Homo sapiens: one gene and its partner. The protein of the gene in region 2 interacts with the protein of the main gene of each other region in a biochemical or structural test. Each region holds a gene or a part of one and is shown on either strand. Other genes may lie near its edges.

The links. The genes of interacting proteins can lie anywhere in the genome.
Region 1: the proteins of FBN2 (region 2) and MATN2 form a complex in vitro, tested with the Homo sapiens proteins (one study listed by BioGRID).

The regions. Positions count from the first base shown.
Region 1 is NC_000008.11:97,927,608-97,935,063, reverse strand, and holds part of MATN2 (matrilin-2 isoform a precursor), read right to left. Parts: intron 4,112-7,456; coding exon 3,542-4,111; intron 1-3,541.
Region 2 is NC_000005.10:128,330,282-128,339,245, forward strand, and holds part of FBN2 (fibrillin-2 precursor), read right to left. Parts: intron 8,781-8,964; coding exon 8,652-8,780; intron 7,842-8,651; coding exon 7,716-7,841; intron 5,833-7,715; coding exon 5,707-5,832; intron 5,297-5,706; coding exon 5,174-5,296; intron 5,015-5,173; coding exon 4,889-5,014; intron 4,564-4,888; coding exon 4,438-4,563; intron 2,754-4,437; coding exon 2,631-2,753; intron 415-2,630; coding exon 292-414; intron 1-291.

The sequences.
Region 1 (7,456 bases), on a different chromosome or scaffold from region 2:
GCTATTTTAAGTATTAAGTGGAATACTGTATTTGAAAGTACCTAGCACAGGACAAGATTAGCTATTATTGGGGTACAGTTTGTGAAAGGAAAATAAAATCTCAGGATCCCAAATCACTATGCCAAAAGGAAAAAAATTAAGCTAAAAGCTGAGTAATGCAAGAAACTGCCTTTGCTTTTGTTCCTAAGCAGATAGCTACAGATAAAAGGTTAAATATCTGCATAAGTAGCTACTCTATGTTCACCTTATCTTATGTAAAGTGTTGATTTACTGAGCACTAGAGGAATACATGATTGACTGTTCCCCTACCTGCTCCTTTTCTCTTGCAACATGTGGATTCAGTAATGTGACCATGCCCTCCCTCTCTCCCTTTTAAATACTGAAGCTCTCAAAATCATCTTTGGAAAAAGGCACAGACCACAGATTGTTCCTGTGATTTTGTGTTCCTTTTCTCCAGGCATGTCCTTAACCTTGGCAAAATAAACTTTTACATTGATTGGGACTTGTCTCAGATACTTTTTGGTTTACAGGTTCAATGAATGTTTAAGGAACAAATGAGACTTCCCAAACCTCAGAGATGTCATCTGCAACTTGGAAAATGCTCACCATTTTTGTCTGATCATTTGAGTGCAGATCAAAACTGAGGCCATCTGCCTAGCCCATCGGTCCTCAGTGTATTTGATTGTAATAATACATAACACAGTGCACACTGAATAGGGCTCTACCATTTACAACACCTGTTCACTCATCTACTTTCTGCATATAAAATCCCCATTTTACAGATGAGGCAACTGAGGCTCAGAGAGCACAAAGGATTTGCTCAAGATTGTACAACTAGAGTCAGCTCCTCTTCCTCCTACGAAGGCTGCCTTCAGAGTTTCACCTATTTTAGGTGAATGCCAATTGCAAAGTAGGTTTACCTGGCCAGGCTGGACTGTGGAGGTGGCCACCAGAAAATGGTTTACCTTAAAAGAGGAATTTGTAATTCCCAACATGCAGAGGAGTGAAATGAGCAAGAGGTTTGGAATTAGCATCCAACTATCTCTTGGCTATTTGTTTTTCAGGTGATTCACTTAGCAAGTTCCTTAACCTGTAAAAAGAGAGTGGCAAGAGTGTGCTGCCTGCCTCCTGGGGCTTTCTGCGATAACATAAGGGAAAGTGCTTTATAAATGTTAGTTACTACAGTCTTTACCATGAAGTTGATAAAGAGGCCCTGGGGCCTCTTCAGCCTTTCAAGACGGCTGCTGAGTCTGCTGAGCAAAGCCGGGCAGTGCAGTGCAGTGAGAGACAGCAGCCCTGTCTCCTGCAGAGTGGATGGGGGGACTCACAGGGGATTCATTTCTCAGGCACAGGAACAAGCGGGATAACGCTAATGTTTTCTTAGAGCTTCCAGATTATAACAAAGAAGATGAAGGGAGGAAAAGTCCAAACTGCCTTTTCATTTTGCTGCCTTGCCAGAAAGCACACAGAGATGGTTTTTCCACAGACAAGTCCACATTGGTATATCCTATTCGACACCAGGATTGCGGGGGTGGGGGGAGGGGGGCGGTCAGTCCCATTGTGTAGCTCCTCAGCCTTATCATGTTATCTTTCCATTTTCTGATAAATACAGAAGGCTTATAAAAAGAACCCCTCCATTAAAATTTTCCAACACAAATGAATAAGCTGTCAAAATGGTTACAGAACCAATTTCCCTTTTAATATTTTCAGGAAAGGGGAAACATAAATTCTGCAGAAGTCATTTAAAGTCATAAACCTTGAAAATGTTTGCAGTGTGTTCTGCTGATTGAAGTGTTCCAGCTGACTTAGGCCACAACACACCACAACAACACAGCCTCTGCAGTGCCAGGGAAATGGCACTTCTGAACACTTTCCAAGTGGCATGGCAAGGAAAAAGGTTCTTTTTTTCTTCATGGCATTGATTTCTTAAGTAAATCTTTTGATTCCGGAGTCAAGAACAAATGAGATCTCTGTGCTTTTTGAAGTTAGTTCTCAGCAGGGGATTTTGTTTAATACACATCAAAAGCACATTGTTCTTCGCTGGGGGCTATATCTTAGAGGTCTAGAATATGTCACATTCTGAGAACCCCCTCCTGGGTGCCCTCTCCTGGGGAGTTGGTGCTGAGTCTGGCTCTAAAGCTCATTCTCCACTCTGCTCTAGGAAGATATTTTACATTTTACAAATAGATATTTACATATAGATAATTTACAAATAGATATTTAAAAATAGATTATTTCCCTTTATTTCCCCACCAAAGATTCATGGTAGCTGGAGGGGACAGGGACCACTGGGAATGGACAAGTCAGGGTGGGACATTGTTTACCAAATCAGGATGCGAGTTTCCTGGATTGGGCGGCTGGCCCCCTGCCCTCCCGGAGGAGGAAGGAACAAAAAGGCAGCCGCAGAGGCAGGAAACTGGGGAGAATGCAGGCTGACCTGCTGAGAAGAGTGGGGGCAGCAGCAGGGGTAGAGATAACTGGAAAGTGCGTGGGAAGGAAGGGAGAGAGAAGCCCTGTGAAAAGAGGGTTAGAAAGCAAAAGAGGAAAGAAAGCTTCCAACATAGAAGAATGCAGCTCAGGGGCTCCGAGAGGCATCTTCCTGCAGAAAGAGTTGGCAGGTGAGGAGTGGCCCCTACAATCTTAACAGGTGGGGAGCTGCCAGGACCACACCTTGGTCCTCTGTATACGCTGGACCTCTTTGTCAGCTGAGAAAACATCCCCTGCCAGCACCACCATGGGGCAAAAATGCCTTGGTATTCCACACCATCCAAGGAGAGATTATGTTACTTTTTCTGCCCTTCCATTCCTATCCGTACTCCAACTCATGAATTCCAACTTAGGGAATTCCAGGGCAGCTCCATGTGCTGAAGAAAAACTCTGTCTATCTACTCTTCCTCATTCTGTGGTTTGGGCTTACGTGTCCCTTCCCCAGGGCAATCTCCCTGAGCATCCAGGCCTAGATAAGGTCCTGGGGTTGCACACTCCTTCATGTCCTGAATTCTTCCTCCATTACACTGTGACAACTATAGTTACTTATTTGTATAATTATATATTTAATGTCTGTCTTAGCTGGGTGCTCATGCCTATAATCCCAGCACTTTGGGAGGTTGAGGCAGGAGGATCGCTTGAAGCCAGGAGTTTCAGATCAGCCTGGGCAACATGGCGAAACGTTGTCTCTACAAATAGTTAAAAAATAAGCCAGGCATGGTGGTGCACACCTGTAGTCCCAGCTACTCATGAGGCTAAGGCAAGAGGATCACCTAAGCCCAGGAGTTTGAGGTTACAGTGAGCTGTGATCATGCCACTGCACTACAGCCTGGGTGACAGAGCATGACCCTGTCTCTAAAAGATAAATAAATAAAAACATGTGTCTCTTGGCCAAAGTGTAAGCCCCTGGAGCACGTTGTGTTTATCTTGGCCTTTGTTGAAAACCTATTGCCAGCACAGTACCTGGGACATAGTAACACAGAATGAACACTTGAAGATGAATGAATGAATTCTAGTGGTTCCTCTAGAAGAGTGACAAAGGAGCAGGACTTACTGCACAACTTCTTCTGGAACACGGAGGTCAGCGTCTCAATCTGGCTGAAATTGGCCACAAGGAAGACATGGTCCTCATGGGGCTCACTCCCAATGGACTTCAAGGTGTTGAAGTCTACCTGGCCCACACCAATGGCAAAGATTAGGATGCCCGTGTCCCGTGCCTTAGCAGCCACCTCGGCCACGGAGTCCTGAGGTCTCCCATCTGTCACGATCATTATGACCCGTGGCACATTCTCCCTCAGGGGCCGGGCCCCCTCTGCTTCTGAGAATGCGATGTTCAGGGCATACTGGATGGCCAGCCCAGTCATGGTGCCCGTGGACAGATGCCGCATCCTCTTGACAGCACGCTCCACCTCGGACTTCCTCTTGAAGGTCTTGAGGGAGAACTCATTCTTGACAGTGCTGCCATATTGGAGCAGGCCCACTCGGGTGACATCAGGACCAATGTCCAAGAATTGCAAGATGTCCACGATGAACTCCTTGACCTTTGCATAGTCATGGGTGTTGACACTGCGAGAGCTGTCAATGATGAAAACCAGGTCTGCCCGCTTGTTCTCACAGGAACTCTCTGGGGAAAGAGGAGAGGTCAAATACATTAGAAGAGAGGCCAGGTGTGGTGGCTCACACCTGTAATCCCAGCACTTTGGAAGGCGGGTGGATCACCTGAGGTCAGGAATTCAAGACCAGCCTGGTCAACACTGTAAAACCCTGTCTCTACTAAAAATACAAAAATTAGCCGGGTGTGGTGGCGGCACCTGTATTCCCAGCTACTCGAGAGGCTGAGGTAGGAGAATCACTTGAATCCAGCAAGCACAGGTTGCAGTGAGCCAAGAGAGTGCCATTGAACTCCAGCCTGGGCAACAAGAGTGAGACTGCATTAAAAAAATAAAAATAAGAATAAAAACATTAAAAGAGAGTTAAGGACCCAGGGCAGACTGGCTATTGTTGGAAATCCTGGGACTGATGATCACCTTTGAAACCTCCTTCATCAATTTTCCTCCCCACTCATGAAAGTTATAAGGGTATATTTGTGCATGGCTGGAAGATCATGACTACTGGCTATAATCAGATAGCAATCCTTTTTGCAAGATAAATGAATATATTAGTTTCTAGAAAGTTGCCAATGCAGTTTTTATGTAACCAAACACCTGATCAGGGTCAAAATTATTTTATTCTTTACTGCATGACACATAAGCTTGGCTGGGCACTGCAGAGAATATAACAGAAGCTTAGGACAGGGTCCAAAGTTAAGGAGCTTCTAATCTACCTGGGGAGAATTAACTAATAAAACCATGAAAGAATAACTGGCATGAAAACTGTGTCGTCCTGACAATAGCTGCTAAGAGAATAGGGATATGAATGGGCTGGGGTCAAGGAGATGGGACGTGAGCTGACCTTATAGATGCGTGGTGTTTGGATTAGAGAGAAGGAGCACATCGAGTGGATCACATGAACCAAAGCCCAAGACGGAATGAATGTGGTGGGTAACAGAATAAGTGATGAGACCTTGTAGTAGAGGGTATACTAGGAGTTGCAGGCAGGAATTAGTTGGACAGATGGCCTGAAGCCAGTTTAAAAAGACCTTTCCTTTCAGACTGAGAAATATGTACATGATGCCACCAGTGAGGGGCATCTTAGCATCATATTATGTAACTCACCTCTCCCATAGGGAAGTTACATAATGAAAAGTCAACAGAGTCTGGCAGTGGTTTGCAAGATGGATGGTATACACAATTTCTGGACTAATCTCATTGAGAGGGGGACTCAGATCTAATCCTAGGACAGTAGTGGAAATAGAGAAAAGGGGACCTGACTAAGAAATATTTCAACAAAGGACACAGTTAAATTGGAAAAAGGCAAATGTTAAGTCCCTTACCACCATGACTACCATAATTATGCCTTAAGCTGCTAAGCAAGAAGACTGTAAAGGTTTGAGTCCATAGACAAACTCATCCCTTTTGCGTTTCTAGTACGAGGGTGATATTGGATGAGATGAGAGGCCTCCAGCTTTAGTGGGTGGAGGCTGGGCATTCCTGTTGGGAGTTTCTCGGATATTCTGAGCTACTGCCTTTCACCAGGGTGAGTCCCTCCTCCCCCATTCTCTACTCCCTTCCCGGACTTTGCAGCTGAATCAGGATTTGAAAGGTATTAGAAAAGGGATCCCAAATGCTTGCCCTAAATCCTAATCACCACAGCTGCAAGAAAGAGAGAGAAAGCCAAAATGAAACAGTAAAGCTAGTCATAAAAATGAGAAGTGGGAAAGGCCCATGAAGTCATCCTGTCCAGGCCAGCTTGCCAGGCTGTGACTCGTCCCTGAGTGCCTGCACACACAACTCATCCTTGCCGCCTCACAAGTCTAATGATTTTAGGGGAGGAGGCACCCACAAATACCAGTAGCCTGGCAAGAAACCAACGTTCTGACATACCCATGCATAACCCTGAGGGCTGGGTGAGTCCAGGGTGAGTGTCTCAAAACAGAGGCCCCAGAAAGTGAGCCTTTGAGGGTTCAGCGATAAGATCTATATGAAACCTAACATTTCCAGAGCACTTTGTCACTTGGTGTGATTTGATTTTCAGAACAAGTTTTTGAGAAAGGATCAAGAAGCATCATACCCATTGCATAGATGAGAACATGGGAGCACTGAGAGTTTGAAATCTTTCATAATTTAGAAAAAGAAAAAAATATACAGAGGTGCAACCAATATCCACCTCGTTGGGCAGCTGTAAGAATTTAAGGAAATGATGTAATGAAGGATCCAGCACTTGGGAACTCCCGACGTGTGCTGGCTGCATGTACAGGCTCTCCCCACCCCTCCATCAGCCCTCACTCGTGTCCAGCCCCAGGCTGGGTAGGGGCAGGGTTACAGCTATGGCTATGTGGTTGGTGCTGCACACAGGCACCTGCTCAAGGAGGTGAGAGGAACTGAAATCCAGCCAAGCCCTGAGCCCCAGGGGCTGAGCCACCCTAAGAGGCACCTTAAGGGGGGTGCTTTTCAGCCAGGTGCAGTGGCTCACGCCTGTAATCCCAGCACTTTGGGAGGCCGAGGCGGGAGGATCACAAGGTCAGGAGATTGAGACCATCTTGGCTAACATGGTGAAGCGCCAAATCTACTAAAAATACAAAAAATTAGTCAGGCATGGTGGCACGCACCTGTAGTCCCAGCTACTTGGGAGGCTGAGGCGGGAGAATCACTTGAACCCAGGAGGCGGAGGTTGCAGTGAGCTGAGATGGCGCCACTGCACTCCAGCCCAGGTGACAGTGCAAGACTCCACCTCAGAAAAAAAAAAAAAAAAAAAAAAAAGGCAGGAGTGCTTTTCTAATTTTCATGAAGGCTCCTGTGGTTTAGCATATAGCCCTGGGTTGGGGCAGTAGATGATGGATCTGCAGATCCCAGGAAGGAGGACAAGGGGGAGCATTCCCAAGACCCAGGCAGGCCCTCTCCAAGAGCCACACCTGCCCGACCCTTCATGTCTGAACTTACTGCAGGGAGAGTGTGACCCAATAATCTTTACCTGCTGAGAAGAGGGGCCAGGCTTAGACCCTGCCATGGAGGAGGATATTAATTAAGGCACCTTTGAAGGGAGGGAAATTCACACAAGACTCGCACTCTGAGAACTCTCTTCCTTTGGAGATCTTTGGAAGTAGCAGAGCCTCCTTGGATTGGGCCTTTATTATGGGTCTTAGTCATGGTGTCAATATCTATCCAAGCATCACAATCAATTTAAAGGGAAGCCTGGAAGTTCCATGGAGAATTGTGTGCTAAACTGGATTCTCTCCCTTCAAAACAAATGGGTAGTTTCCACAACACCTGCACATGTACAAAAACGCCACAAAGGTTCAAAATGTTGTTGGAGGTTCCAAGAAAGCTGTAATTCTGAGTTGAAAACACCAAGTCCTGGCAGCCCAAGTAAC
Region 2 (8,964 bases):
CTGTGTTTTTTTAACCACTGTGTTACAAATGAGTAAGATAAAATGGCGAGTCATTAACAGTACATGATTGTTACAAATGCCGTTATTTGAAAACTTCCAACAATATATTTGGAAAGTCATTCAGGTTTTTGTGTTTAATGTAAGAGAAAGATACATAGTCACCTGCAAGTCAAGTATAAAAAAAGAGGTAGTTACTTTTGTCTCCTTTAATTATAATTTTCTTCAAATAAGGAAGCATATAGAGTGTTCTATGACCATCCCGTCAGAGCACACCTCAGGACTGTCACCCACCTGAGCAGGTAAAGCCATCACCAGTGAAACCTTCGGAGCAGGCACAGCGGTATGAGCCCGGGGTATTTACACACTGAGCATTGATGCTACACTGGTGGGTTCCATTAGAACATTCGTCCAGATCTGCAGAACACAGCAATAAAGTTCAGAAATGAAAATGGAACATTTAAGCACCTGGAAAGATTATCGTTTGTCTTAATTTACATATAAACTGGATAAATGACAGGCATTTTAGTTTGCAGGATCACAGTTCTAATTCGCTAAGCTCTCAGACCCAATGTCCAATGTCCAGGCTATAAATGTGGGCCAAAATTATGAATTCAAGCAATTTGTGAGATATCTAGTCAACGTGAATTTTTTAACAGCTTAAAGCAAATTAGTGTTAGATCTCATTCTGACTTCTACTGAGGGTGAATTTTATTAGTGGTTTCCTTATCAGTAGAAGAATCAATTCTGAAGGTGATACTGAATTTCAGAGCAGGAAAATTAACAAAGAGTTTTTAAGTTTATTTAATAGATGAGGAAACAGAGATATGATTCTTGACCTCATGGAATCCCTTAGTTGAGCAGAAAAGACAGATGTTAAACACAGAAAAAAACTAAATCTTGCTATATGTGCCATGAAGAAAAGTTACAAGGTGCCATGAGAGAATAAAAAAGGCATCTGATTTGGGCTGCAGGAACAAAGATGCCCCCATTGAGGAAGTAGTTTTTAGTTAAGGTCAGACCTGAGGATGAGAAACAATTAACTTGCTGAACAGAGGTGGGGAAGGATATTCCTTGCAGAGGGACGAGTGCATGGTAAGACACCAAGGAGGAAAAGAGCTCAGTGTGACTGAAAAAATGAAAGGAGGTTAGAGTGGCAAAGCAGAATGCACCAGACAGAGGGTGATGGACAATGAAGCTAGAGAGACAGTGGAAACCCGCAGCCAAGGGAGGGAAGCTGAATTTTATCCCGAATTCAATGGGTTATAGTGAAGACTATGAAGAGATCGAATCCATGGTTTAAAAGCTTCCTCCTGCTGCTACGTGGAGAATGGATTGCAGGAGGGCCAGAGAGGGAACAAGCCAACATACCAGAGGGGATTCTTTTAGCATTCAGCAGACACGAAGAGCGAGGGCATGTGAGAGAGACAGAAACTCTCTCTGGTTGGGACTAGAGTAGGGGAAAGAAGATGTAAAGGAGAGGATGAATTTGGGTGACATCCTGGAGCACAGGAGGCTGGACACAGCTGAATGTCTTGTATCAGAGGCAGGCTGTTTTGCAATAGTTGGCCAAAATGACAGATGGACAAGAAGCATAAAAATGGGAGGCCAAAAAGAGAAAAAGAGTAGGCACATGGGGCTACGAAAATGGGAATGAGGGTATGGTTGAAAAGTTATGATAGTAACCCTGGAAAGATGGCTGGACTAGAGGCTGGCACTTCACTAAGCCATTGCAGGATGTTATTTAGCAGTTATTTGGAAGCTCTGATACTTCAAATTCTATAGTCAGTACATAAACTTTTGATAAGTATGAAATATTTGAATGGATAAAAAAGTATATATTCAAATTAACTTATAGTTTTGGTAAGAGATCTTAAAGCTATTCTTTAATCCTTACTGAGGGCCTATATATTTTTTGTAAGTTATCAGGGGGAAGTGAGTTTAGCTTGCTTTCTTTTCTGTTTTAAATTGACCTAGAAATTCTTACTAGTTGGAAAAATGCTTTATTGTAAGGCATGTGAAACACTAAGCATATTACACAAAACTGTGAATGACACTCAGGGTATATTCTAGTCCCTTCCCTCTCAGATATAAAAGACTTCTTAGACTCTGGCTCAAGAACCATAAAACTTGGAGAATTTGCCTATTTTTTTTCTTCAAATAAGACCTCTTGGAATGCAAGAAAGCATTTACAATTTCCTGTAAGAAGAATTCTATTTTCTAATAAGATGGTGGTATTGATGACTTACTAAAAAATTAGGTTATCTGAAAAAACCTTTTCATTGCTCTCCATTTATTCCACTGGATTTTAAATCTCACTGATTACTTCTTTGAAAAGATTGGAAGAACATACTAGTCATTTTTCATCATACAGCTGTGTTTGGATCACCAGCTGCATATCAATTTTTACTGAACAAAAACACATTAAAAAACAGGTGCCAAGGCATACTGTTGAAATTTTGATAATTTATATTAAGGGTAAAGGACACCCTTAGGCAGGAATTATCTTGCAACTAAGATAACCTTTTTATAAAGGAATTAATAAAAGTGAAGAGCATGATTCTACAACCATGCAAAAAAGAGCCTTTAAAAATTTGTGCCTTAGCAAAGGATATTTACATTTGCAAACTCACCAATACACTTGATGCCGTTTCCAATCCAGCCTTCTCTGCAGCTACACTTGAAGCTTCCTGGGATATTCAGACATGAGGCATGCATGTCGCAGTTATGAGCACCAATTTCACACTCATCCACATCTGATAAACCATAATTCATAAGAAGAAAATCAAAATACAAACTAATTAATTCTACTTCCAAGTATATTTTTGTATAGGTAACATTTTAAAGTAAAGATGCAACCGTATGGAGAAAAGAGTAGCCTAACTAACTTTTATTTTTAATTTTTGTAGGCTCCAAGAGGACTTGGAAAATTCATGATCCTAATAAAACAAGTTCTTCCCTAGAAACAACTGTCAGCCACTTTCCAGTAGAAGAGAGAGAGACACAGCAGTGTTGCTCCCCGGCAGGTATGTGTATTATCCTGGGGCCTTCTTCCCTGCCCAGATTCAGACACAACACCATAAAGAGGACATTCGATTACAGATCAAGAGAAATCTTATTTCCAATAATAGATGGTGCTATTCCTTCCTATTGATATTTATTACATATTTTTCATGAAGATAAGAATCTAACTTTTTAAAAAAAGTAATAGTTTATTCTCTTTAAAATTACATGATCATTTGTCATTTAAAAAATCAATATAAATATTTTACAGAATTTAAAAAAAACTATTCATTTAGGTGTATATTTTTATTTCTTCTACTTATTTGAGATTATAGAAAAATATTCACTGGGAATGTTATCTGGAAAGTAGCCAGATGCTTTCGCCAGTGTGTGTGTGTGCGTGTGTGTGTGTGTGTATTTGTGTGTCTGTATACACACACACATATCCCTATATATGTATGTATAACCTATGTAGATTTGGTTCTCCAAAGCTTTCTTGACTATAAATAGTAATGTGTTCTATCTAGTTCAACGATTACATATTATAGATGCTGAAATCACACACACACACACACACACACACACACACACACACTACTGGCTTCACATCAACCCTGTCAGTGGTGAACATGCAAAGAACACCTTCTTTTATAATCTGCCCCTTACTGGAGGGGTCAGCTTAAGGGCTGGGTTGGACTCTTAAGTCTTCCACCACCTGCCTTGAAAAAATATCACACATAAGTCTTAAATTGTGCACTGAGGAATACGTGATCCAAAACCTTGACCCCGGCACATCCTAGCCCCACCTGCATGCAAAAGGCTAAAACTAGTTAGTAGTAGTAGTAGAGAAAGGGAACAAAAGACAAAGTGAGCAAAGTGAGCAAAGAAGGAAAGTGAAGAGAGGAAAAAGAGAAAGGCAATTTGGGCACAGAGAAGAGAAGACAAAAGCAAACAGAAGAGCAAACAAGAAAGGAAAAGATGGGAGAAAGGAAGAAAGGGAAAGAGTCTCAATGAAACTTGATTAATTTTTACTAGTTTAAAAGAAGTGCAGAGGTAAATGGCAACCGGGATCCTCGGGTCTTTTGGTGCTCTTTGTACATGAATGTCTTCCAAGCGGGCAGCAGTCATACTCAGAAAGTGACTGATGCTGCATGAACGACCATAAGTGGTCAGGGCCATGGGAACCAGACTGTACTCCTACTCACTCACTCTGTCACAGCCCACAGCCAGCCCCACGGTGGGTGGCTCAGACAGCGTGCTACCACAGAGACCAGCCAAATCCATCACACATCCTATAGGTCACACACTCATCACACACACAGTCACAGTCTGGTGGCAGGTAACCGCTCTAAGAGATGCCAGAGAACAAATGATGTTGAAAGTTGGCCTTTGACATCTGAGAAGTTGAAATACAGAGAACACAAGCTTGAAACCTACCTGTACATCCTGTGGTCCCCTTCTTCACTGAGTAACCCAGCTGACAGTGGCAAATGAAGGATCCCTTTGTGTTCTCACATTCCCCAAACATGCAGATATTTGAATTTAGGTCACATTCATTGACATCTAGAAAATTTATTTTCAATATCTTAGTATGTGCTCATCACAGTAATTTAAAAGCTATCTTCTACACTGAATAGCATAATACTGAAATACACAGGCAAGATCTAAAATATAATCCATCCGCAAATCATCGTGTTATAGATAAATATACAACCTGCCTTTAGACATTTTTAAAAGTAATTCTTCCTGAGATTTTACAGTTCTAGTAAAATGATTTGAATTTTTAAAATAACAACAGAAAAAGCCTTCCTTTTATCACGCTTGTGTGTGCATGTGGGTGTGTGTGCATGTGTGTGTATAAATGTTTATCCTTTCTTATGATACCCACCAATGCATGTTTTCATGTCCATGGAAGCCATGAAGCCATCATAGCAGAGGCAGCGATACTCTCCAGGAATGTTGGTACACTGGCCGCCATCACAGATATCAGGATTGTTTTCACATTCATCAATGTCTGATGATACAAAATTAGCATCAAATGAAAATAAAAATGTCGTTCATCAATCTCAAATGTTTTTGTTTTCTATCTGGTTCCACTTGGTAATATCTGGAGCCATATTTTCAAGAAAAAATTAGTTAGATGTACAAAACCTGTGTGTTTTCCTTTCTATACCTGCACACGATCTCCCATCTGGCATCAGGGCATAACCCTCACTGCAGCTGCATTCGTAGCTTCCCTCTGAATTTGTGCACTGGGTGTCACAGCCTCCGTTCATTATCATACATTCATCAATATCTGTGAAAACAGCATTGCAACCACATTGTCAGGTCTGCTTCCTTAAAAGGAGTTTTCTTCTTTTTAAACAGATAATGCTAATGTGGCTTTGAATTTTTCTCCCCACTATGTGTGTTGATTGAACATTATCTTTCTTAGTTCTTTCACCTTCATTTTAGGCAGCATTCCATGTTTAAGTGCAGTACCCTAAGATTAACTCAGAAATAGAAGAACTATGGGGATTAGAGCATTTTCTACATTAAGATGAGTGAGTCTGCTGCAAGATCACACAATAACTGAGATCTGCCCCTAGTCTTACATTCATTTTTGGGACAAAGGATTTGCATAGCCTTCATTATAATTCAGCGCCAAAAGTTTTCCTAGGCTGATTTGAGACATATGAGTTTCAGGCCTGCTTGGTCTCCCCTTACCTGTACAGCCCTGGCGGTCTGGCGTAGCCTGATATCCAGGATTGCAAGAGCACTGATAGGTTCCAATCATGTTCACACATTTTCCATTTCTGCAGAGATTGTCACTCAGGGAGCATTCATTAATATCTATAAAAGATACACAGAAGTAATGCTTTACACAATGTCCACTCACTAAAGCCATCAGAAAGGTGCTTCACCAGAGCAGTGGTCTCCAAAGGGGTTTGTGTACTTCACGAGGAAGTAAAATGTTCTCCTGGGGGATTGAAAGAAAATGCTGGATTCTCTATTTCCATCTACAACAATACTGTTGAGTAAAGCTTTCTACAATGATGCAACTGCTCCCAAATCTATGCGGTCTAATACACAGCTGCATGTGCTACTGAGTACTGGAAATATGGACAGTATAACTAAGGAATATTTAATGTTATTTAATTTTAACTGAATTTACATAGCCACATATGGCTAGTGACTATCATGTTAGACCACACAGATTTCACATATGCCAGAACTGAAGCTAAATACTACTTAATATATGAACTTACACTGGCACGCTCACCTGGTCTATATTAGATGGTGAAGTGTTGCCTACATGATTTGAAGTATACTGATGGAAGACTGATGGTTCCACAAGACAGAGGCATGACAATAGGGCCCTCATGTATTTAATTGTTTACACTGTGTTATGTTTTGTGTGTCGGGATAGTAATCTACAAATCACACTGCCTGTTTAAAAATAAACTAACCCCTATAATATGGGCAGGTGCCTTAAAAATAAACTAGTACCAATAATGTAATCACAAGATAACAGAAGAAAATGGCAGGGTGATACACTTCCTTATGTAAACTACTTGTCAGGTATAAGGTAAGGTAAAAAACAGTACAGTATAATCAGATATAACAAGAAATTTATTCCAAATTCTCAAAATAACCAAGAAGATTATATGGCATGGGTTTATGCTTATGATCACTAAGTGTATATTATACAGAAATATATATTTTATATTCTGCATTGTTCCTTTGGGGGATACGTTTTTAAGCTGTAAGATCCACGAAAACTAAATAACAAAGTAAACTTAGATCTGTGACTCATTATACCTCAATATGTTCAACCATGAATAAATATTCTGCAATTATTAGTGTGAAAAAGCCTTTTGTACCGCTATTAAAATGAAATAAGAACATAAAAACCTTTTCATTTATCATTTTAAAATATCTATTTATCTATGACAAAATTCACCTCATATACTAGCAAAGCAATACATAAGGCTTATAAATAAATATATGTGTATTGGAAAGGTGTGCTCAAATTATGTTTTGAAATTTGGTGTGCAATCTGTTCTATTTTAGGCTGTCTTATTTGCTTACGGTTTTAAGAAAGAGTTCCTATGAAGAACATGCTTTCTGGCTAAAACAAAGTTTTAAAGCCAGTATACTAGGAACATAGTAAGTCCAGAGATCTTCATGTATTGTGAAAAGCAATAGGTTGCAACGCCCAAAGACCAGTCATTAGTCTTCTCATATCCTTTCTGGCAGCCCTACAGAGCTCAGGGCAAATGAGGAAACCCAGTGTTTCCATGAGAAGTGGGTTAAGGGAGCGCCATGTTCACACATGTGCAAGCCGATCGTGAGCAGGCACAGGGGCGTAGAGCGGAGTCTGCCGAGTGGATGGGAAGACGCTGGGCAAAGGTGCACAACGCACACAGTAGCTTTCCCATTTTTTCCTAATGGAGGATGAGACCACAAGGACTTCCACAGGGCTCCTCACACAGGGACCAATCACGTGGCTTGTTATAAAAAAAGAGGCCAACCAGAAGAATGCCAGCTTATTCGAGTGTGTCACCCAAGCATCCACTAAAGACACAGCCTGCATCCAGATGTAGGGAATCTCAATTTCCACCTTTTAATAAGCTAGATTTCATGTGCTCCTCAAACAACAGGTTTGTCAGAACTGATCCCTGGTCTTTACCAGTTGTGCTGGGCAGGTTTATGTGCTGAGGAGATAAACTCACCCACACAGTCCTCACGGGATGGTGACAGCTCGTGTCCCAGTGGGCAGTCACACTGAAAGCTGCCCTCAGTGTTCACACAGGTGCCACCCCTACAAAGGAGAGGGTTACGTTCACATTCGTCAATGTCTGAAAGGTAAAAACGTGAGATCCATTAAAGAACTCTGAGGGAAAAATATTCACACATACAGCGTGGGAGAAAGAATATTATCTGATGTGAGAGTGTGAGTTAGTGGAAGAGAGATGCTTCATAGGAGATGGGATAACGCTTTCCTCACTTTTCCTACGACCAACAGAAAAACTAAAATTTCTACTCTTAAAGGTAGTAAGCTTTCAAGAAATTTAATTGCATGAAATCAGCAGGCTCACAAGGGGTAGAAATACATAATATTTGCTTTATATCACCACGGACTCATGATATATTGTTGTCAGTTATCCTGGTGTCTGTAACGCTAATCAGGGTGAAGGAGAATCTTAGACTTATAACCTACTATATCCTATGAGGTAGGTCTTATATCATACTGAAAATTAAACAGTGGGCTAAAAGGTTGGGAATACCAAAAGAGTTTGTAATAGTACACAAATAAGAGCAATAACATGGGATTGGCATGACTGAATACAAATCTTGGGGCCACCACACGATGCCATGCATTTTAAAGTAGTCCCACCTAAATAAACAGTCTGTGTGATTTTAGATTCTATGAATAAACAGGATCCAATCTGAGTATCTCATTGCCATGAAGGCGCCAAGAGGTTGGGGCTCCCCGAGAGCTATCCAGGAGCGCATTTCCTGTCTGACATTTAAATCTCTTCTCTCTCTCACCACAGATGCTGGCCACACATGCCGTTCACAGCCCAGAGATAAGCAAAGGTCATGCGCACGAATGAGTCTGTGCTAGTATGGTTTCAAGCTGGCGAGGAAGAGCTCACGGTGCTTACCCATGCAGTTCTTCATCATCATGAAGCCACTTTCATAGCCTTCGAAGCACTCGCACTCAAAGCTGCCCGGTGTATTGACGCAGATTCCACTGCCACAGAGGTCAGGAGAAATCCTGCACTCGTCGATGTCTAATTCACAGGGTTTAAAAGAAATTTAAAAATTGAATGAGATAGACTTGGCCTTCCAAGCGAAGGTGCTGCATGCTTGAAAAGTTGGGGAAATTGCTGGCTAACAGTACAAGGGTATGTTTTCAGTAGACCCAGATAGAAGGGCCTGGGACCTGAGGCACATTCCTTTCCCCAACTGCCAAAA